2 linked regions of the Homo sapiens genome follow. The protein of the gene in region 2 interacts with the protein of the main gene of each other region in a pairwise test. Each region holds a gene or a part of one and is shown on either strand. Other genes may lie near its edges.

Evidence for each region.
Region 1: the proteins of LARP6 (region 2) and ITSN2 interact in a two-hybrid assay, tested with the Homo sapiens proteins (2 studies listed by BioGRID, with this or other methods).

Annotation. Positions count from the first base shown.
Region 1 is NC_000002.12:24,291,324-24,303,561, forward strand, and holds part of ITSN2 (intersectin-2), read right to left. Parts: intron 10,780-12,238; coding exon 10,642-10,779; intron 9,917-10,641; coding exon 9,831-9,916; intron 8,849-9,830; coding exon 8,586-8,848; intron 7,492-8,585; coding exon 7,342-7,491; intron 4,482-7,341; coding exon 4,341-4,481; intron 2,453-4,340; coding exon 2,365-2,452; intron 1-2,364.
Region 2 is NC_000015.10:70,842,006-70,854,243, forward strand, and holds the start of LARP6 (la-related protein 6), read right to left. Parts: upstream 12,153-12,238; 5' UTR 12,084-12,152; coding exon 11,884-12,083; intron 11,814-11,883; exon of another isoform or gene 11,342-11,813; intron 9,716-11,341; coding exon of another isoform or gene 9,634-9,715; exon of another isoform or gene 9,441-9,633; intron 1-9,440. UniProt on the Homo sapiens protein: Regulates the coordinated translation of type I collagen alpha-1 and alpha-2 mRNAs, CO1A1 and CO1A2. Stabilizes mRNAs through high-affinity binding of a stem-loop structure in their 5' UTR.

The sequences.
Region 1 (12,238 bases), on a different chromosome or scaffold from region 2:
TCACCGCATTGGCCAGGCTGGTCTCAAACTCCTGGCTTCAAGTGATCTGCCCACCTCAGCACCCTAAAGTGCTGGGATTACAGGCATGAGCCACAGTGTCCAGCCTATTCAGGAATCTTTCACGTCTATTAGCGAAGTGTTATAGCTGCATATTTCTTCTTCTTCCTTTTTTTTTTTTTTTTTTTGAGACGGAGTCTCGCTCTGTCACCAGGCTGGAGGGCAGCGGTGCGATCTCAGCTCACTGCAGCCTCTGCCTCCCAGGTTCAAGTGATTCTCCTGCCTCAGCCTCCTGAGTAGCTGGGACTACAGGCGTGCGCCACCATGCCCAGCTAATTTTTGTATTTTTAGTAGAGATGGCGTATCACCATGTTGGCCAGGATGATCTCGATCTCTTGACCTCGTGATCCGCCTGCCTTGGCCTCCCAAAGTGCTAGGATTGCAGGCATGAGCCACTGCACCCGGCCCATATTTCTGCTTTATTCATAACAATGTATATTACTAATAATGCATGTTTTAATACCAAATTTGATGACATATATGAGCACTATGTTGGGTAACTGGAAAATAAGACAAAGAAACAACATGGTAGTACAGTGGGCTTTACAGTTAGACATGAATTTGAGTACTATGATTGTACCATCCTGGGTAACTACTTAATCTCTCTGAACCTCAGTTTTCCTGAGCTCACAATGGGAATAATAACTATACCAAAGGGTTATTGTAAAGATTAAAGGAAAGAATGCATCAAAACTGACTCACACAGTGCTTGGCACATGGCTGGTAATCTTAAATGGCAATTGTTATACAGAGAGGCATCTAAGGGATACAGGGTACTTTTCAAAGCCCAAACAAAAGCTTCCTATTTTGAATTGGACTATGGCTAAATAAATAAATAGGTAACAGCTGCACTGAATTACATTCCACAGAGAAAGAATAGCCCCATCACGTCCTCAATAAGACATATTCTACATTTTATTCACAATTCAAATAGGAACAATGACAACAATGATGACAATAATAAAGATATATTTCTGCCACTGTGCATATCAGGTGGGTTAGCTCACCCTGACTCTGGAATGCCTGTGTAGGGGTGAGGTGGGGGCTAATATACTTTGAACAGGAAAGAACCAAGTATAAGGAACACTGTCTGAGCAGGGACATGGATAGACCACATCAATGGAAGGCAGGAGACACAATAAAAATAGTTCACAAGAGTGAACTTCATTTCTGATATTTCTTCCACGTGAAGGGCCCTGCACTAGCCCAACAATCCCAGCTTCTTTCCTTCCTTTCACTAACTAGTGAGCTCAAGTTAAAGACCTAGGAATGTACAGCCTAGGCTCCTCCTAAGCCCTCACTCTCTAGAGACTTAACTGCCCACAGGAAACCTGCATTCTACTTTGTTCATGCATCCAGTGCTTTATAGGTGCAACTATACCACCCACAGATAAACCACACTGCCTAGAATCAGCTTCATCAATAATGAGGCAGTGATTTGGTTTCTCATTTGTCTTGCTCCTTTGCCTTATTTCTTAATTTGTTCAGAACTTGCGCAAAGAAGGGGATACTATTTATTGAACTTTGTAAACAGCCAAAACTATAATAAAGAGACCTACAATGGAATAATTGACTTGATAGAGACTCAATGAGTGACATTTTAGGATACTTTAGTCAGTTGTAACACAACATCTGCAGATTTACTTTTCTTTAAATAAACCTTGTTTCTGCTATGCTTTTATTGGTATAGTATCCAATACAGAGAATTTTTTTCAGTTTTCTCATTGGGACCTGAGCAAAAACAAAAACAGTTACTATCCCATAAATTATCCTGGAATGTTTTGTTCCACAGGTGTCAGAGGGCCAAGATGGTAAAATTCTTTGTATGAAGCACAGAGTTAGATAATATAAAGGGTCTGGGCAGAGCATACCATCCTGCTTAAGCCTATGACTGCTGCACGCTAACACCCTAGAATCCCAGGTGCGGCCCCACCATAAAGCCTCCTCCTGAACAGTTCTTTAAAATCAGTGCAGGACTTTTCAAAATGCACATGTAGTCTTGTGTTAGAGCCAAATTTATATCTTATAGTCTAACACTTTATTTGATGTTTCAATTATATACATAAAAATATCATCAAGATATGAAGTCATACCACAATCATTACTATTTTATTTTTATCTACTTTTTATCACTAAAAATGCTCTAACATCTGGGATATTTTTCACTTTATTTTGAAACTTTAAACTTACAGGCAAAAAGTGTTATTTATAACAGAATACTTTTTTTAATTTTAAAAAAGTAACAATGTGACTGATACAGTCATTCAGAAAAGGATAAAAGTAATCAGACAAACCTTAGAGACTTACCAGGTGTGTTACTGAACTGCATGTTTTTAATTCTTTCATTTAATAATTGCTTCTCAGGTACCAGATAGATAAGCTTATTCTGATATTCCTTATAAAAAGAAAAAATAGTACCTGATTACAATGTTATAATATTGTCCAAGAGTTTTTTTTGAAAACTTTAAAACAGGATTTACTCATCTTTGAAACTTATTTTAGAAATAATACATAGTTGTAAACTGCTTACAACTTATGAATCAACTAGAATGGAATTATGCCAAGAAATATTTAAGCCAAAATCAATTTTGAGTGACTGGCTGAAATTAAAAGGCAGTGAAGAAAGCCTTTGTAAATGGGGTGTGTCTAGAAGCCTACAATTTTCAGCTTACTGATGAATGACAGCAGACCTGCGCTAGATGGTATGTGTAAGCATGCCATGATACTTCAGGATGAATATGTGTATATCAAAGAGGGACTAAAAGCTGGGTGCGGTGGCTCACACCTGTAATCTCAGCACTTTGGGAGGCCAAGGCAGGTGGATCACTTGAGGTCAGGAGTTCAAGACCAGCCTGGTCAACATGGTGAAACCCCGTCTCCACGAAAAACACAAAAATTAGCCAGGCGTGGTGGTGGGTGCCTGTAATCCCAGCTACTCAGAAGGCTGAAGCAGGAGAATTGCTTGAGCCTGGGAGGCAGAAGTTGCAGTGAGCTGAGGTCATGCCACTGCACTCCAGCCTGGGTGACAGAGGGAGGAAAAAATAAAAAGGACTAAAAACTAGGAAAGCAGGTTTAAATCAGACAGAAAATATTTTTGGCTTTTGTTTATCTCTCCTGTAACAAAGCAAAAAGACTGATTAATTGCCAGTCCATGCAGTAAGAGAAATTGGGTAAGAGAACTCTAGAGATGCAGAATGCTTCCACAGCCCCATTCTGCAAATAGTAATTATTGAACCAGACCCTACTGCACAAGTAAGGAAGAGAATTACCAGGACCCCAAGGGACATATTCAAGTTCTCATCATAATTTTAAAAAGAATAACTTTAAGTCAAAATTTCCTAAAATTAGTAGCAATAACCTTATTTTAATGTATGATATGGTCTGAATGTTGGTATGTCCCCAACATTCATATGTTGGAACCTAACTCCCAATGCAGTACTATTAAGAAGTAGGGCTTTAGGAGGCTCCACACTCATGAATGAGATGACTGTCCTTATAAAGGAAGTTGAAGGGACTGCCTTACCCTTTCTGCATGTGAAGACGCAGCAAGAAGGCACTAGTTTTAAAGGAGACAGCAAGCCCTCATCGGACACTGAATCTGCTAACACCTTGATCTTGGACTTCTCAGTCTCTAGAACTATGAGTAATAAATTTCTGTTGTTTATAAATTACCCAGTCTAAGGTCGTTTGTTATAGCAAGTAATGAATTAAGAATGCATAAACATTGTTAAAGAGTTAAAACTCAAAGTGATAAATGTCCACTTACGTATATATATTAAGCAAAACTTAACCAGACGTCTAGCAGAGTTTTAGTAGGTCTATGGACTTCCTGATATTGTATACAGGATTGCGTGTATTTAGATCACAAGCCTATCAAAGACTCAAGGTTATTGACCCCCAAAACAAAACTCTATTAGAAGAACTGTTTCGTTTTGTTTTGTTTTGAGATGGAATCTCGCTCTATCATCCATGCTGGAGTACAGTGGTGCGATCTGGGTTCACTGCAACCTCTGCCTCCCGGAATCAAGCGATTCTCCTGCCTCAGCCTCCCGAGTTGCTGGGATTACAGGCATGCGCCACCATACCCAGCTAATTTTTTTGTATTTTTAGTAGAGACGGGGTTTTGCCCTGCTGACTGGGCTGGTCTCGAACTCCTGACCTCAGGGGATCCACCCGCCTCAGCCTCCCAAAGTGCTAGCATTACAGCCGTGAGCCACCGTGCCCAGCCCAGAAGAACTATTAATTGTACATGTTTAAGAACAATTTAGCAGTGAAGGACTTACCTGAAGTTCCTGTTGAAGTTGCTTGATTTCCATAATTTCCAAGTCACACTGCTTATCCAGAACTTCCAGCTCAGTCTTTTGAGTTTGCTTTTTGAGTCGGACATCCTGAAGTCTGCCTGAGATCTGCTGATGTTTGCCATTCTATAGGAAGATCATATAAATATATAGTAACATAAAATGCTAATAGAAAATGTTTCTACAAGGAGAATAATATTTTTAGTTAAATTTTAAAATCTCAGTTATCATTCATATTCATCCTGAAACAAATGCCTAAAACCAAGTGGAATGTGTTTCAGAGTTGTGTCTGTTAACTCGAGTTATTAGTGGGAAACACATCATTCTCAGAGTGCAAGAGCCCATATGTTAGTATGGGAAAGCAGAAACATAACACATTGAATTTTTTTCTGAATTCAGCATTAGACAATATTAATTAACAATATTAATATCAGAGACACTCTCAAAGAATGATGAAGAGGAATAAATGTTTGCATGTGATGCTCGGCATTACCTTCTCTGAACTTCTATTTCTACCCTAAATATGGCCATCTAATTTCCTCTAATTAAAACAGTGCCCAGGAGGAACGTTTTGGCAACAGTTCTGTTCTATACTAATATTCTTCTCCTTTTTTCCTCTTCTTCTGTGAAGAAATCAAACAAATAGCAGAGATTCTCAATGGGACCTAAGAAGAAGGGTGACATGGGGGGTTATGGGCTGAACTGTGTCCCCCAAAATTCATATGTTAAAGTCCCAAGCCCCAGTACCTCAGAATGTGACAATATTTGGAGACAGGGCCTTTAAAGAGGTGATTAAGGTTAAACAAAGTCATACAGGTGGACCCTAATCCAATCTAACTGGTGTCCTTATTAGAGGTGGAAATCTGAACACAAAAGGCACCAGAGATAAAATACACTCAGAGAAAACACCATATAAGGACACAATGAAAGATGGCCACCTGCAAGCCACCAAAAGAGGCCTCACAAGAAACTAAGCCTAACTAACCTTGGTCTTAGATCTTAGGAGCTGTGAAAAAATTAATTTCTGTTGTTTAAGCCACCTAGCCTATCGTATTTTGTTACAGCAGCCCTACCAAACTAATACAGTGGAGTGAGGGGAAATGACATCCTGGGTTAAAACTTACTGATGATGAAAAGTTTTACTGAAGACTGTTTCATATTTGAAATACATACACTGAAAGGAACATGTGTATCTCTGCTGGAGCTCACATTCTTATCCTCAACATGGGATACGTATAGGCTCTGGACCTTTCCAGACTCTGCACATTCACCTGTGTTACTGTGCTTCATGTGTTGCACCAGTTCTTGAGGGAAAAACAATCAATCTTAAGGTCTCTTCCCATTATATATAGTCAAGATGATATATATATATAAAAATAGTGCAAGAGAGTTAAAAGTTTTTTACAACTGTTTTGTAGTACTCTGGCATGATTAATACTTGTGGTATGTATGTCTATCCATTTGAAGGAATAAAATAATATATTTCTGACTAAAGATATTGTGATGATTAAAAAAATAATTTTTAATGTAATTCAAGTCATCAACCAAATAAAATGTTAGACTATGATCACACAAGATCTAAATCTGGCTCTACTACATGACTAGGTATGCATTTTTGTAAAACCCTACTATATGATCAGGGTAGGCTCATGGGATTCTAGGGTTGTGGCAGAATAGTGCCAGATCTTTTATACCTTCTCACCACACATTTCAAACAAAGTCTTTTAACAACTTGACCCTCTAACATCTGATTGGTAAAAACTGCTTAGTGGCCAGTATTAGCTAAGAACTACAATCCTGCAGAACTGGAACTGTAAGAGATCATTTAGGTCAGCAGTTTCAAATCAGTTGTCTTTTTAATAGTAGAATCTTTTTTTTTCCAAGCAAATCTTGAGTGAAACCCCAAGAAACATAAAGCACATAAATGTCAAGCTTCTCTGTTGTGAAGCGTGGGAAGAATTAGGGAGAGAAAATCACTGTTCTGCTGCCCGAGCTTCCCCTCTCCTGCCTCTGCTTAGTCCTCCTCAGACCATCTTACAGAGACCAATCTGAAAACTGAAAATCACTCAACTAACACAACTCTTTATTTCAGACAAGGGAAAAGTGAGGCACAGAGAAGGGAAATGTCTTGCCCAGGAGTACATGGTTCATCAGTGTCTGAACTGATGCTACAACATAATTCTCAGCATTTTGAGTCATTATCCTTTTCTCAGTAAACCATATTGTACAGTCTGTTTATATGAAAATGTGACTAATGACATTAAGACATAACTAATTCACGAGAGATTTTAAAACACAATTACATTTTTCTTTTTTTTTTTTTTGAGATGGCGTCTCACTCTGTTACCTAGGCTGGAGTGCAGTGGTGCGATCTTGGCTCACTGCAACCTCCACCTCCTGGGTTCAAGTGATTCTCCTGCCTCAGCCTCCCAAGTAGCTAGGATTACAGGCACCCACCACCACCCACCACGGCCAGCTAATTTTTGTTTGTTTGTTTGAGACGGAGTCTCACTCTGTTGCCCAGGCTCGAGTGCAGTGGCGCGATCTCAGCTCACTGCAACCTCCGCCTCCCAGGTTCAAGCAATTCTTCTGCCTCAGTGTCCCAAGTAGCTGGGACTACAGGCGCACACCACCACTCCTGGCTAATTTTTGTATTTTTAGTAGAGATGGGGTTTCACTATATTGGCCAGGCTGGTCTTGAACTCCTGACCTCGTGATCCACCCACCTCAGCCTCCCAAAGCGTTGGGATTACAGTGAGCCACCATGCCCAGCCCACAGCTGGCTAATTTTTTTTTTTAGTAGAGATGGGGTTTCACCATGTTGGCCAGGCTGGTTTCAAACTCCTGCCCCAGTTGATCTGCCTGCCTTGGCCTCCCAAAGTGCTAGGATAACAGGTGTGAGCCACCACGCCTGGCCCACAATTACATTTTTCAACAGGTAGCTCCATCATCATTCAGATAAATTTCACTTAAACTTCAGCCATACCAGTGCTTCCAACTCAAGATGAAGATTCTTCTTTTTAGAGTTTAACCTGACAATTTCTTCTTGTTCTCTATTCTTTTGATTGAGAAGCTCCTGTCGCCGAATTCTCTCCCATTCTAAGCGACGTTGTCGTTCAAGTTCCTGTTTTGCTGCCTGAAAAAAAAAAGGAATTATACTTAATTTTTAAATCAAAAATTTTGCACGATTCAAAAACTGGGAAGACAACAATAAAAGTCAGGCAGAGTTTAGCACTTAGTGGCTTTAGTGCCTAAGGGTAGCTAGGCAAATCTAGTTTTATTAATGGGCTTAAAGACTTCCAAGAAAGTGGCTTCATCTATCATATTTTCTCATTTCTTCACGAGATCTTTTTTTTTTTTTTTTTTTTCCAGACAGCATCTTGCTCTGTCACCCAGGCTGGAGTGCAGTGGCACCACCTTGGCTCACTGCAACCTCCACCACCTGGGCTCAAGCGATTCTCCTGCCTCAGCCCCACCAAGTAGCTGGGATTACAGGCACACACCACCACACACCTGGCTAATTTTTGTACTTTTTGTAGAGAGAGGGTTTCACCATGTTGCCCAGGTTGGAAGACCATCCTTTTGTTACAGTCATTTTTCTCTTAATAAGTTACAGAATGACTTCATAAATATAAATGTTAACAGGAATAATTTTCCCTCTATTCTGGTATCTGGGGGAAAAATTCTATTTATATTATTTCAGTGTGCAATAACTTCCTGTGCTCCATCCCTGGCCCTTTAAAACACAGCCAGTCCTCCTAAGGACCCTTCTTTCCCAGCAACACTATCCCAAAGGCCTGTGCAAGCCCATCCTCTTGATTCCTCTCTAGAGAGACTTTCAATGCCCAGCTCTCATCTTTCTGTCTCTCCAATTCCTTGGACTCTTAATCTGGATCTTAAACTTGCTTTCGTCTAATGACTTGCTCAGTTGCCTAACTAACCTTAGCTCCTCACTCAACTTAGCTCTGCAGTCGATCCTCCTTTGATTGAGATATCACCTGCAGAGGATGCTTTCTCTACCACGTACCAGTTCTGAAAACTCCTTATAAGCAAGAAGCCTCTTTCCCTCCTCAAGGGAAGGAATGATCAGATTTGTATAGGGTAAGAATGAAATGATGCAGAGCAAAAGGCAAAACAAAAATTCAAAAATAAGCATTTTTTAATCAAATGAAATATAGTCACTTATTAAATGTAATGATTTTCTTAAGAAGTAAAAAACTTAAAAATAACCTCTCGTCTTTCTATGTCTTTTCTCCTTTCTTCCTCTCGTTGTCTCTCCAATTCCCGTTGCTTCTCTAAGCGTTTTTCTAATTCAAGTTGTTTCTTCCATTCTTGTTCTTGTAATTCTCTCTGTTTTCGTTCCCACTCTTCCTTTTCTTTCTGGGCTTTACGTTCTGCCTCCCTTTGTTGCTGCTCCATCAAGGCTTGGCGTCGCTTTTCCAGCTCCATGTTCCCTCGCTCATAGTTGGCTTTCCGTTTGTCCTCAAAAGTAACTGAACAAGGTATGCCTATCAGCATCCACACACATTAACAGCCTACAGAACCTGTAATCTAGTTTCTATATACTTATGCCTTGTGATCATTTGAGTGCTATCAGTATTTGAATACTTCTCCTAAGGATAATTTTAACTCAAATCTAAGTGGAAAAATATCTACTTTCTTCAAGGATATTCAATTTTAGAAAAACAAATTTTTAAGTTTGAATCCAATCAAGAGAGAAATAATTTTTATAAACTTGCCAATAAAAATACTTTTTCGGTTGGGTGTGGTGGCTCATGCCTGTAATCCCAACACTTTGGGAGGCCAAGGTGGGCGGATCACCTGAGGTCAGCAGTTCAAGACCGGCCTGGCCAACACGGTGAAACCCCATCTCTACTAAAAATACCAAAAATTAGCCAGGCATAGTGGCAGGCACCTGTAATCCCAGCTACTCAGGAGGCTGAGACAGGAGAATCGCTTGAACCCAGGAGGCGGAAGTTGCAGTGAGCCGGGATTGTGCTGTTGCACTCCAGCCTGGGCAACAAGGAAAAAAAAAAAAAACTTTTTCAACTTTTTTCTCTTCTTCAAGGACAATCAAAGCTGTGTGGTTATACATTTGTTTTGATGTCATTAACATCCTAATATATTAAAACAGCTACAAATGTATTCTTTCAACCAATATTTAAATGTTTTTAAAGGTAAAGATTTCATTACAAAGTTTCCTCTAATAACTCAGCCTAAATTAGGAGAAATACTTTAACTCAGATGTCTATAATCCTGTCAAATACATCTAACTGTCTCTTCTTCCTTCACACTCTTCTCATTTTGACCATCTTAATTTTATCAATACCAAAATACATCCCATCTATCAAATAGTTTTTTCTCATATAGCACATCAAATATTAAAAATATAAAAATTCTAAATATTCCATTACATTTAAAGGTAGAATTTAAAAGAACTCAGTATAAATATACAACTTTGACACTCAGTGATACCTGGTAATTTCTTCTGAGGCTCCTCTTCTTGCATTTTCTGATATGAAGGCAGAGTTCCATTAATGGAATCAATTTGCTTTCCTCCTCTAAAAAAATCAAACAACAAAGTTAGCATCATGTAGTCTGGACATTTTCAGACTAGATTACACAGACTACCAGTGATTATGGCAATTTGATATTGGGAATACAGTATTAAAGATATTTAAAACAGTTTGGTATGTCGTTACAAAATACAGTAGTATATGGATATTCAAGACAGAGAAATCTGGATTCAAATCACAGTTCAGCTAATTTTGGTTCTTGGGCAAGTTTTTCTTTATCTCTTTAGTCATTAGCCTCCTTATGTATAACATAATGAAAACACATCCACTTCTTTTTTTTTTTTTTTTTGAGGCAGGGTCTTGCTCTGCTGCCCAGGCTAGAGTGCTGTGGCATAATCACAACTTACTGTAGCCTTGAACTTCTATGCTCCAGTGATCCTCCTGCCCCAGCTTCCAGAGTACCTAGGACTACAGGCGCACACCACCACACCTGGCTAATTATTTTTATTTTTGTAGATACGGGGTCTCACTATGTTGTCCACGCTGGTCCTGAACTCCCGGCCTCATGTGATCCTCCCACCTTGGCTCCCAGTGTTATGATTACAGGCGTAAGCTGCCACGCCTGGCCCACACCTACTTCTAATATGTACCCTTTTCAAGTATAACTTGTTGAATACTAAAATCAATGGCAGTGCAAATATTTAACTCTCTTCTAAATCACATCTGCCAAGTTATCAAAACCATAGTTCTCCACCTCCAGGCACACTCACCTGAAAGATGGAGGAACAAGCTCAGGAGGTAAAGTCAGTGGTAATGGCTGTCCAGCTTTGGCCATGTCAGTAAGGTGCATTGCAAGAATAAACTCTTCTGCTTTTAGCTGTCCATCACCATCAACGTCAGCCAGAGTCCTAAAGAAAATGTTAAAATTCACAACTTAATAAAGTCTATTTGGAGTAAAATATTGCCTTAAAAGTTCAATTTTTATTTTACTTTTATTTATTTATTTATTTATTTATTTATTTGAGATGGAGTCTAGCTCTGTCGCTCAACCTGGAGTGCAGTGGCGCGATCTCAGCTCACTGCAAGCTCCGCCTCCCGGGTTCACGCCATTCTCCTGCCTCAGTCTCCCGAGTAGCTGGGACTACAGGCGCCCGCCACCACGCCTGGCTAATTTTTTGTATTTTTAGTAGAGACGGGGTTTCACCGTGTTAGCCAGGATGGTCTCGATCTCCTGACCTCGTGATCCGCCCGCCTCAGCCTCCCAAAGTGCTGAGATTACAGGCGTGAGCCACCTGGGCCCGGCCAATTTTTTATTTTTAAAAGAAGGATAATGATGGTAAAACTGCTGGGTACACTTATTTTAGTGAAATGTAAATACGTACATTTACGTAACTCACTATTGAATGTAAGTATGTAAGTATGTACTTCAATAGTGAATTAATTTTTTACCGTTGATTTTCAAGACATAAAAGAGAGGGAAGAAACTTTGAAACAGAAAGAGAAGTAACTACCCCTTCTGAGAAAGTGGCTTGTCTTACTCCATGGTTAATTCACCTACCAAATCACATTTACCTATATTAAAAACAAGATATTCTCTGATTCTCCATAGAAGGGATTAGATGAAAGAAAACAACAGTTTTTCTAGTAAAATATAGTCATGAACTGCATAATGACATATCAGTCAACAATGGACTGCATTTATAATGGTGGTCCCATAAGATTATAATGGAGCTGAAAAATTCCTACCACCTAAGGACACTGTAGCTGTCATAAAGCAACGCATTACCTATGTGTCTGTGGTGATGCTAGTCTGAACAAACATACTGCACTGCCAGCTGTAGAAAAGTACAGCATATACAATTATCTACAGTACATACACTCAATAACAATAAACATCTGTTAATATATTACTGGATTATGTATTTACTATACTTTATTTTTATTGTTATTTTAGAGTATACTCCTTCTACTTACAGAAAAAAAAAAGTTAACTGTAAGACAGCCTCAGGCAGGTCAGTCAGGAGAAATTCCAGAAGGCATTGTTATCATAGGAGACAATGGCTCCATGCGTGTTATTGCCCCGAACACCTTCCAGTGAGACAAGATGTGGAGGTAGAAGATAGTGATACTGATGATCTTGACCCTCTACAGGCCTAAGCTAATGGGTGTCTTTGTGTCTCAGTTTTTACCGAAAGTTTAAATAGTAAAAATAAATTTTAAAAACAAGAAAGAGCTTAAAGAATAGGATATAAATATCTTTCTGTACAATGTGTTTGTGTTTTAAGCTAAGTGTTATTACAAGAGTCAAAAAGTTTTAAAAAATTAAAAGGTTTACAAAGTTAAAAAGTTATTGTATGCCAAGATTAA
Region 2 (12,238 bases):
CTTCTCCCCATTTTATGTCTCCTCTTTCTCTCTCCATTTCTTTTCTTTTCTCTTTTTGAGACTGGATCTTGCTCTGTTGCCTCAAGTTGGAATGCAGTGGCATGAACACAGCTCACTGCAGCCTCAGCCTCCCAAGCTCAAGCAATCCTCCCATCTCAGCCTCCCAAGTAGCTGGGGCTATAGGAATGTGCCATCATGCCTGGCTAATTTTTCTGTTTTTTTTGTAGAGATGGGGTTTTGCCTTGTTGCTCAGACTGGTCTTGAAACCCTGGGCTCAAGTGATCCACCCACGTCAGCCTCCCAAACTGTTGGGATTACAGGTATGAGCCACCATGCCTGGCCTCTCTCCTCATTTCTAAGTGTAGGTGTTACCCAATAATCTATCCCTGACACTTTATCCCCTAGCAACCTCTACACTTCAGCTCCTATAAGCTCATCAAATTCAAATCTACCCCCCAGCCTGTCCACCGCCCCACACCTTCCTCTCCTTCCTGAGCTGCAGTCCTCAATTCCTAACTGCATGCCAGACATTTCCACTAGGACAATCTGATGTAGCATCAGATTAAATATGTCCACAATCTAACTTCTCACCTTCTGCAGAACCTGACCTCAGGCAGGACTGAAGCCTGGGCCCATCAATAGGCATTCTATCTGGGAAGCTGACCTTCCTTTCACACAGTCTCACAGTAGACTATCCATAATGTATTGGGGGTGACTCTGCATCAATTATTTGCACCCACTGAGCAGACAGGCAGATAGCCAGAGATTCCAGAACAGGTGGATGATACTGTGGAGGTGATATAAACCCCTATACGAGTGCAGAGGTGAGCTTCTTGTGCTTGGAGGACTCCACCCTCTGCATGAGTGCTGTCAGCAGCAACTATGCATCTCCAAAGGGGGATCTTGGGGGAGTTGAAAAGCCTATGTTATATCCAGGAGCAGGCTGCATTGTTTCCTGTTTGTGAAATAGCCTTCAAATGGGAAAAGATACCATATCTTTTATGAATATTAATTTTATATCCTTTAAACCTGAATATTGTCAACTTATTGCCGATTACAACCATCCTGTGACAATCATTTATCTTCCCTTCCAACCCACCCCCCAACTACTTTCCCTATTCACTCTTCTATGTACTTAAGCTCAAGACCTAGGATGTGTCCTTTCACTCTCTCTTTTGCCCCCACATTTAGTCAATTATAAAGTGCTTATTTCATTTTGCAGGGTCTCCCATCTGTTCTCTCTTTGCCATTCCAACCATCCTCATTATTTCTCCCTTGGATACTTATTAATAGCTCATCAAAACATTTTTCCAAAAAATTAAAGTAATAGATAAACATAGCAAAAACTAGAATAAAATAGTAGGGAACTTATAAAGAAATCAACAATTCCCCATTCCACCTTTCCTCCCTAGAGGTAACTTCTCTTCAGCCATTTAATTCTTAGGAGAGTTATCTCATAGCTCTATAAAATATGCTTATAGCTCTATTTCTCACTTGCCAACCGTAGTCATTCTCTATTCATGTCTTACTACATAAAATGAGTATTTGGGGTCACTTATGACTTATGTCCCTAAATAACCCCTTCTTCAAATTTTCTTTTAGTTTTGGTTCTTCTATTAGCCTTTTATTTATGGTTTTGGTGTCTTTTTTTTTTTTTTTTTTTTTTTTGAGACGGAGTCTCACTCTGTCGCCCAGGCTGGAGTGCAGTGGCATGATCTTGGCTCACTGCAACCTCTGCCTCCTGGGTTTAAATGATTCTTCTGTCTCAGCCTCCTGAGTAGCTGGGATTACAGGCGCACGCTGCCACGCCCGGCTAATTTTTTGTATTTTAGTAGAGACAGGGTTTCACCGTGTTGCCCAGGCTGGCCTCAAACTCCTGAGCTCAGGCAATCTGCCCACCTCGGCCTCCCAAAGTGCTAGGATTACAGGCGTGAGCAACCGCGCCCGACCTTTTTTTCTTTTTTTTTTTTTAAGACAGTCTCACTCTGTCGCCCAGGCTGGAGTGCAGTGGTGCGATCTCGGCTCACTGCGACCTCTGCCTCCCAGGTTCAAGCAATTCTCCCACCTCAACCTCTCAAGTAGCTGGGACTACAGGCACACACCACCCCACCCAGCTAATTTTTGTATTTTTAGTAGAGACAGAGTTTCACCATGTTGGCCAGGCTGGTCTCAAACTCCTGACCTCATGTGATCTGCCTGCCTCAGCCTCCCAATGTGCTGGGATTACAGGTGTGAGCCACCATGCCCGGCCCTATTTGTGTTTTAAAATAATATACTTTAAGTGGTTTCTTATTCCATAAACATTAAAAAGTATTTTTCAATTCCTTGCTACGTGATATATTAATACACACTATTGTCCTACTCTCTCTTCCATCTCACCTATTTCCAACCTTCCATATTGCATCAGATGTACTTTTATTTCATTTTGCCATGGTTCATAATATTTCATTCCATTCGGTAACTAATATTCTATATTTTATCTATAGATACATACTGAAAGTTGAAAGTCAATCAGTTGTATTTTATTATTATGACTATGTAAACACTGTTCCCTACAGGGCTAAGTCATTTGCTAAGATTACATTTCTTGTCTCAAAGTCCTATTAGTTGACTGACCACCTGGATTGGTCCTCTATGTTTATTTTTTCTTTCATATGCTCTGTCTTTGTCTTTGTAATTTACACACTAAGAGATTTCTTTGACATTATATTCTAACCTTTCCTACAGAATTTTTAAATTTTAGTAGTTATTTATTTAGTTTCTAAGAACTGTTTTTGATCCTAGATAATTCCCTTCTAAGAGCTTCCTACTCTTGTTTTGTGGATGCAGTATCTTAAGTTCACTCTCAGGGTGCTAGTTGGAGTATACATTTTTGAGTCTTTTGTTTCAACATCATCACCTCTGTATCCTTTGGGGTCAGTTCTTCCATTTAACTTTCATGCCACTGATTTTCTTCAAGTGACTAAGAAATAATTCATTTTTTCTTTATTAAAGGGTTTAATAAACTTATTTTAGAATAGTTTTAGATTTACAGAAAAGTTGTGAAAATTGTACAGAGAGTTCCCATATATATACACCCAGGCTTGCTCTGTTATAAATATCTTGCATTAGTATGGTACATGTGTTACAACCAATGAACTAATTACAATTAGTTCATTAGTTCATTATATATTATTATTACCTAAAGTCCATATTTTATTCAGATTTCCTTAGTTTTGCCTATTGTCCCTTTTTCCGTTCCAGGATCCCATCCAGGACACCACAATACATTAACACATTAAGCTGTCATGTCTCCTGAGGCTCCTCTTGGCTGTGACAGTTTTCCTTGTTTTTGATGACCTTGACAGTGTTAAGAAGTACTGGTTAGGTATTTTGTGGAATGTCCCTCAACTGGGATTTTTCTGATGTTCTCTGTCATGATTAGACTGGGATTATGGGTTTTTGGCGGGAGGACCACAGAGGTAAATTTCCATTCTCAGCACATCCTATCAGGGTAGATGCTATCAACATGAATGATCACTGTGGATGCTAACCTTGATCACCTATCTGAGGTAGTGTTTGTCGGGTTTCTCCCCTGTAAAACCACTCCCTTTATCCCCACTCCCATACTGTGCTCTTTGGAAGAAGGCCACTGTACACAGCCCACACTTAGGGTGTGGGGAGTTATACTCCACAGCTATTCACTGTGAAGACAAAAGGTACATGCTGCTTTTTCTTAGTGGGTTGTATGGGTTCCCTCTGCAGTTGCACACTCCCACTGGTTTTCTTCCTAGATGGCTCTATGTACACAGGTGGGGCATGCCAAGTGGCAGGCTTCACATGAGGGTGAGCAGGCAGGGAATGATTAAGCTGGGGGCTCTACCCAAATGGCAAAGGCTTTACTCTGCGGCTGCCAGCTCTGCTTTCGCATCCCTAGATCTCCGTAGTGAGCTCATTCAATTCCTTTAGAAAATAATCTTGTCTCTTTTTTTTCCCCCTTAAAAATAAAATACCTGCTACTTTCCACTGGCAGACAGAAAGGCTAGGAAATTGTTCTAAAGGAAGAATTTAAATTACCTTTCAGATATTTGTAGCCCTTTTTACTCCTGCATCTTTGGTATATTTCCCAACCAGAGTCTTTCTAGGGTTCTGTCTTCCCACCTCCTGCCACCTCCCATGTTATATTTTAGGCTACAGCCTCCTCCACTCTGTGCCATATTACATGTTTTGAAGAACAGCTAGAGTATGTCACTGCTTTACTTGATGTCACTGATTTACTTTAATAATAATAATAAAAGCTTTTCTATTTCCTGTTAAATAAAATTCAAACTCTTCGGCTCCCAACCAGGCACGGTGGCTCACGCCTGTAATCCCAGCACTTTGGGAGGCCAAGGCCGGAGGGTCATTTGAGGCCAGGAGTTCGAGACTAGCTTGGGCAACGTAGCAAGACCCTGTCTCTACAAAAAATTTAAAAATTAGCCAGGTATGGCCGTGCACACCTGTAGTCTAGGCTATTTGGGAGGCTGAGGTGGGAGGATTGCTTGAGCCCAGGAGGTCGAGGCTACAGTAAGCCATGACTGCGCCACTGCACTCTAGCCTGAGTGACAGAGTGAGACCCTGTCTCAAAAAATAAATAAATACATACATACATACATACATACATACATAATAAAAAAAAAACCAACAAAGTCTTCAGCTCCTTATTCAGACTCATTTAGAATCTGGCTGTAACCAGCATCAAAACTTATTTCCATCGGTTTCCTTTCAGATCCTTTGCTCCAAACAAACAGAAAGACATAGTTATCTGTAAGTGTCACAAGCTTTCTGGACTCTGTGCCTTTGAGCTTGCTGTTCCTGTCTCTGAATGCCTTGCTCCTCTCTCTCGGGTCTAAATTCTAGTCACACATTAAGGTCCATCTTAAATGCAATTCTCCTAGGAAGAAAAAATCATTTCTACTTCTCCCAACACTTATCTATATTTGTATTATAGCTACTTGTGTGCACATTTTATTAGCAGCCCGAACACTGAGTTGAGAGTAGAACTCAAGCTGGTTTCTTTCATTATAGTATTACCCCAGAGCCTTGCATGTAATGGGAATTTAAAAAGTATCACCAATGTAAAGCAAATAGTTTTGAGGGCAAATCATACCTATCAGGATCCTTTGAGGGAGGAAGTATGGTTTCTGATGAATATGCTCTTAGTGGCCTTTCAAGGAGGCTTGAAAAAGTTTTACACTTAAGGTTTTGCTTTGTTTTGTTTTTTAACAAAACATTGTAAACTGGGAGTGATGAGGTCTTTTGTTATAGCTATAAACCTGTGAGAAATGGGTAGAAATAAAGGGGTACATTTTAAAACAGGTAATTGGGTTCCATGAATCAGTGCTGAATTTTTTTTTTTTTTTAAATATGTTGTCTCACTCTATCGCCTAGGCTGGAGTGCAGTGGCACTATCTTGGCTCACTGCAACCTCTGCCTCCTGGGTTCAAGCGATTCTCCCGCCTCAGCCTCCTGAGTAGCTGGGACTACAGGTGCGCACCACCATGCCTGGCTAATTTTTGTATTTTTTAGTAGAGACAGTGTTTCATCGTATTGGCCAGGCTAGTCTCAAACTCCTAACTTTGTGATCTGCCCACCTTGGCCTCCCAAAGTGCTGGGATTACAGGTGTGTCATATTTGTAAATGATTTAGAGAAACAAAAGGATTTGTAGCATAAAACATCCAAGGCTACTTTTTTCATAAAATATCGAATCTGGTTACACTGATTGCGCAGTTAATCGAATGATACCCTATAGGAGGAGAATATCCAAACTAAGATGGTGGAATAATGAGACCCTCACTACAGCTTTCAATCCAGGAATGATTTTTCAGACTCATTGTCTATCATTGCAGATGGTGGAATATGGTATTTTGACCACCAAGACCAAGAAAATGGTGGACACCAATAAGGAAGGTACCAAACACAAAAACATCATTTATGAAAAACACTAGGGTCCAGGTCCTGTCTGTGTGAGATTTCTTTTGACTCACCTCTAGAACAAGATAATGAATGTGAAATGGTTCAAAAAGGGCAAATTGATAATGCAATATAAAAACACCAGGGCAGATTCAAAAGATAAGGATTTTTCACTGAGACAGATTGAAAACATATACAGGTATGTTCTCAACTTTGTTAAAGGCATCACCCTTTTACAAACCATATTTTGGATGGTGCTAGCAGGGGGCACATGTTATGCTTGCGTGGCCCATGGGTTCTTATATATTTATTACAGAGACATGAACTTCCTCTCTGACCCTGTCTTCTGCCATGCTGTTCTGGCATAAGCCTTTGAGCCTGGGAAAGGGATATACAACTAGTGGATGTCTCCATGGGTCTAAATAATGATTCGTAGTTTGGAGTAGAGACTACGTATATCAGGCACTTAGTTCTACATCTGACAAAAAAATTGACATTAATAAAAAAGCAGAGGCCAGGCGTGGTGGCTCACGCCTGTAATCCCAGCACTTTGGGAGGCCAAGGTGGCCAGATTACTTGAGGTCAGGAGTTCGAGACTAGCCTGGCCAACATGGTGAAACCCTGTCTCTACTAAAAATACAAAAATTAGCCGGGCATGGTGGCAGGTGCCTGCAATCCCAGCTACTCGGGAGGCTGAGGCATAAGAATCACTTGAACCTGGGAGGCGGAGGTTGCAGTGAGCCAAGATGGTGCCACTGCCCTCCACCCTGGGTGACAGAGCAGGACTCTGTCTCAAAAAAAAAAAGTAGAGGCTTTCATTATCACCATCCAAAGCAGGGAAAAGACAGCCTGTACAATGTCCCAAAAACATCATGGAAAAAAAGAGAAACCTAGAAGATTGTGTTGTTAAATTAAAAGCAGGTGGCTCAATGGTTTTTATTGTTCATATTAATATTTAATATTATAACTTTGAATCATTTTTACACATTGTAATACAAAGAAAATAAGTAATTATGTTAATGTTATTAGGAACCAAGATTTTCAGTATAATAAATAAAAGAAGTAAACAGCAAAAATCCTGTAATGTAAATTTGAATTGGAATTATTGATATAAGTGTTTTTTAAAAAACATATTTCTTGGCCGGGCATGGTGGCTGACGCCTGTAATCCCAGCACTTTGGGAGGCCAAGGCAGGTGGATCACGAGGTCAGGAGTTTGAGACCAGCCTGGCCAACATGGTGAAATCCCGTCTCTATTAAAAATACAAAAATTAGCTGGGCATAGTGGCAGGCGCCTGTAATCCCAGCTACTCAGGAGGCTGAAGCAGGAGAATCGCTTGAACCTGGGAGGTGGAGGTTGCAGTGAGCCAAGATCAGGTCATTGCACTCCAGCCTGGGCGACAAGAGCAAGACCCTGTCTCAAAAACAAAACAAACAAACAAACAAACAAACAAAAAAATATATATATATTTCTTAGTTCTGTCCACTGAAAGGCTCTGAAAGCAACAATACCCTGGCAGAAGTTAGCTTTCCTAATTCCAGGTCTTAGTTTCTAAATACTTTCTTACTGGTATTTGAAAAAAGCAGAGATTACTGTGGAAATGGCTGAATTCCATGACTGGAGTAGGAAAAGTACAAATTATGCCTGGAATACTAGTACCAGAAAGCAAAGAAGTGCTTAAAGACTAATGGGCATGTTACAAAAAGACACAAGGAGGCCAGCTTCAAGGGGGTCTGCTGGCTGCAATATAGACATTTTGAGCACCAAAAATGACTGTGATGAATTATTAAAAAGTGAATAAATACAAATCTATGAATTGGAGAGAGAGGAAGAGTATAAGCTTGAGGAAGAGCCCTCATTTAAATTATTTAGTGTGACTATTATATCAAATTATCTCTTTGAAAACTGTAATTAAAGGGAAATAATTAAGCATTTTTTTGCCTCTTTAGGAGAAACTTTTGTTCAATCCAGATGATGAGACAAAGCTTTTTTTAAAAAAAAATAGAGCAATGCTGGCTAATAAGTGTACAAAAAATGTGAAAATTAGAAAATCCTCAATTTCCAGTCCCCAGTGAAATAACCAACTTAGGTAAGGATCATCAATAGATGCTAAAATAATTAGGTGAAAAGTCATTGGGGAAAGAATATTGCAAGAGGAATGGAAAACTTGGAAGAAATGCATACATTCCTAGAAACATGAAACCTACCAAGACTGAATTATGAAGAGACAGAAAATCTGAACAGACCAATAACAAGTAAGGAGATTGAATCAGGAATCAAAAATCTCCTATCAAAGAAAAGCTCAAGGCCTGATGGCTTCATTGCTGAATTCTACTAAACATTTAAAGAACAACTAATACCAATACTTCTCAAACTCTTCTAAAACTTTGAAGAGGAGGGAATGCTTCCAAACTCATTTCACAAGGCCAGCATAACCCTGATACTAAAGCCAAACAAGGAAAACTATGGGCCAATATCCCTGATGAACATAGATGCAAAAATCCTCAGCAAAATATTAGCAAACTGAATTCGACAGCATCTTGAAAGGATCATTCACCAAGATCAAGTGAGATTTATCCCTGGGATGCATGCATGGATCTACATATGCAAATCAATAAGTGTGATACATCAACAGAACCCAGGATGAGAAGCCCACAAATAACTTGTTAACTGCAAAGGGAAAGACAACCTGTACGATGGAGAAATCTCCTTAATCGAATGGTCAAATTTAGCATCACTAAGGGTGGGATGGCTCCTGAAGTGATGGAACATCAAGTTCCAGGCACAGAGTATGAGGCATTCTTGACAAAAGGTTTAAACAGAATCAAATCAAAACCTTAGCCCTATCTTTCAGTTTATAAGAAGCACATGGTACAAAGGAGCAAGTAAAATAAGATCATGAGAACATTACCAGACTAATCCAAAATGTGAGACATTCAACAAGATGTCTGACCTCTTCTGTCCAAAATAGCAAAGCATTAGGGAAAAAAAATGGTGGAAATTTCTAGATTAATAGAGTCTAGAGACATAAGAAGCAAATGCCTCAACCCAGACCATATTCTGGTTTGAGGGGAAAAAAGAAACAGCTGTAAAAGACAATTGTGGCACAATTTGGGGAATCTTGAATGTGGAACTTGGCTATTAGCTTATCTTCAGGATTATATTAGGGAATGATAGTTAATTTTCTCAGTTGCAATAATAGTGTTAGGGCTTTATAGGGAATGTCATTAGGAGTTACAAAATGAAGTATTTAAGGTATAATCTTGTGTAAAACATACCTCAAATGGTTCGGGGAAAACACATACATTGTATATCCATTCACCAAATATGGCAAAATGTTGTGTTAAATCTAGATGATGGGTATATGAATGCTCATAGTACTATTTTTTCATATTTTCTTTATGTTTGAAAATTTTTATGTTAAAAAGGTGAGAATAAAAGGAAAGGCATCTTTTTAATGAAGGAGATGTGGGGAGATGATCAATAACATTTTAGAGGCTGTAAAGACTTTTCTTTATTGTTCATTTATTCTGTTCCCTTATATAAGCTAGGTATTAGGCTAGGTATGGAAATACAAAAAGGAATAAGATAAGGCAGCTGCCTTCAAGGATCTCACTGTCTAGGGAAGGGGAAACACAAATATCTCAACACCATTGAGTGAGTGTGATGATAGAGATACGCATTCAGTCAACAAACATGTCCTATGTGCTGGGTGCTGTGCTAGGTGCTGAAGATACAATGAACGAAGCAAGCATGGTCCTTGAATTCACCGAGCTCCTATTCCTGTGAGGGAGACACAATGATAGAATCACAATTGTGGAAGGTGCTAGGCATAAAATGTACAGAGTACTACAGCAACAGAGAAGAAAGGAAACACAGCCAGCTCTGGGGTGGGGATTGGGGGTGGTGGAGAAGAGGCAGCGAAGTTTTAAAGGCTGACTAGAAATCAGTCAATCAGAGGACCTAGAGGTGGGGGTGCAGAGGCATGTAGACACAAAATAGCCCCCTATGCTCAGGGAACTAGCTGGAATCACGGGAGCGTGAACTGTTGACAGCGTGAACTGTTGAGGCAATGGGCTGAGGAGATGATGTGAGTGGGTGTCACATCTTAATGAGCAGATTGAGGAATCTGGGTTTTCTCCTGTAGGCTCCAGGAGCTGAGAACATTCACATCGGGTGATGGCTGCTGCCATGCGAGCCTGGGTCCAAACAGGGGATAGTGTGGATCCTGTTCTTGGCTACATCTCCTCCTGCTCTGGGTGCCTGCCCACTGGGCTCTGTCAGCTCACCGAAGAACCCCAGGGATTTTCTGGGGTCAACTCTATGCCAGTGGGCAGCAGGAAGGGCTTCAGACTGAACACTTGCTGAGACTCAAGCCACGGGAGCTGGGCAGTTCTGGAGGAAGAGCAAGAGGGGTTCAGGCAAGAGGCCTACCCATACTGAGGCTTGGTTTCTCCTAGACCTCCATAGGGGATCTTTCCAGGCCTTAAACATAAGTAGAGCTTTAATCCTGGCTAATGATACAATCTCACAAATTTAGCCCTCAGGATAGGGATGGCTATTTGCCACTGCCACAGGAAAATAAAGTTATAAGGATAAACCACTTGGGGCTATTTTACATACTCTGATATTGTCTGACTAGGGGACTGCCTTCTCGAGACTGTGAGCTGTCAGTGACTAAGGGTTCATCATTTTTATGCTCTCGGTACTTGGCACAGAGCTAAACGAATCAGGCCTTGCATTATAAAGCACTGATCTATCTACTTTGTCATACACTATGGTCCAGCTTTCCTGCCCTACCCTGGTGGGCTGACTTTTCTCCCCTAACAACTGTCTCTACTGGTCTGCCCCGAATCTCTGGGTCCAGAAGTCTGACCCTTTAACCTGGGGAAGGGTGAGCCAGTAATAGAGAATGGCTCTGGGCCCAGTATTCTTCCACCCTTGAGTTGAGTATTCTCCCAGTGAAGTAGATATACGCTTGCCAGGACAATCCTGCAGAACCTTAACAGCTAAACGCCTGGGACAGGGTCCTAGAAGAAAGAGAGCTCCTAATAAGTGCCTGTTGGCATCCACCAGAATGTGCAAGTTCTGTCATTTCCCCACTCTCATGTCTATGTCTATGTTTTATCTCCTTTCAACAGCAGGAACAAAACACCAGTCCTTAAGGGCCTGGGCATTAGTGGACAGGAGCCAAGGTGCCTGAGGACAAAGCTCGGGACCCGGGACAAGGTTAAACAAGTGCCATAGCAGCTCCAAACTACCCAAAACCCAGGAACACCCCCCCCCCGCCCCCCGCAAGGCAGCAAGATGATGCAAACATAAAGGTCTGGTGGGAAAGGCTGTGTGAAAATGGGAATCCCCCAGGGCGGAGGAAGTAAAGCAGCAAGTCCTCTATCCGTCTCAAATTACCTTGAAATCCCACCTCCTGGAATCCCCCATCAGCAAGTGTCCGCTGTACCTGGCCTGCTACCACCTAAAGACTGAGCGCAGCCAGCAGGACTGGGAAAGGCAGGGCGATGATGGCAGTGAAGGGTAAGCGGGACCACTCGCAAGGGGAGGGGAAGGCGGGTAGGGATGGACTTTGCGGCGATGGGGAGGTGGTGTCTTGAGGGAGCCCACAGAGAAGAGGCCTCCTCCAGAGGAGGGGGTGGCTTGGATGGCCCGTGAAAGTCCTCCTCCTGGATCCCTGAACATCCCCACGTCCAGGCCCCTCAGATCCCGGCCGCCAGCCCTGGGAGCCTCGGTTGGGCGACGAAGCTGCGGGCTGGGGCACCGGCTGCCTCCACGGGCCGGTTCTGACTCAGGGGCTCGGCCCGGAGCTGCTTCCCCGGCGGCGGGGCTGACTCAACCCCCTCTGCCCGAGGAGTTGTCGCGCGCAGTCAGCGCCCCGAACTCGCGCGCGGCCCGGCGCCCCCTCGGGGCCCACCTCCCGGGCCAGCCGCCGCGCCTACCTGTGCCCGCGGCTCGGCTCCTCCTCGCTCGCGCTGCCCCAGCCGGGGCTGAGGTACCGGGCCGGGTCCCCGGCGCCCCGAGTCTCCGCCCCCTCCTCCTCGTCCTCCAACTCGTCCACGTCCTCGGCCTCCTGGATGGCGACGCGGATCTGCACCGCCGTCTTGGGCCCGGGCCGAGCCTCCCCGCCGGACTGGGCCATGGCTCGCGGGACTGCGGCGCCGCCGGGGTCCTCACGCCGCAAGGCCCAGCCAGCCGGTCGGCAGCGACTGCGACGAGGGGGCGGGGGCGGTGCGAGCGCGCCTGCCGCTCGGCCCAGGGGAGGGACAGGGGTCGCGGCGCCCCGCCCCGCGCCGC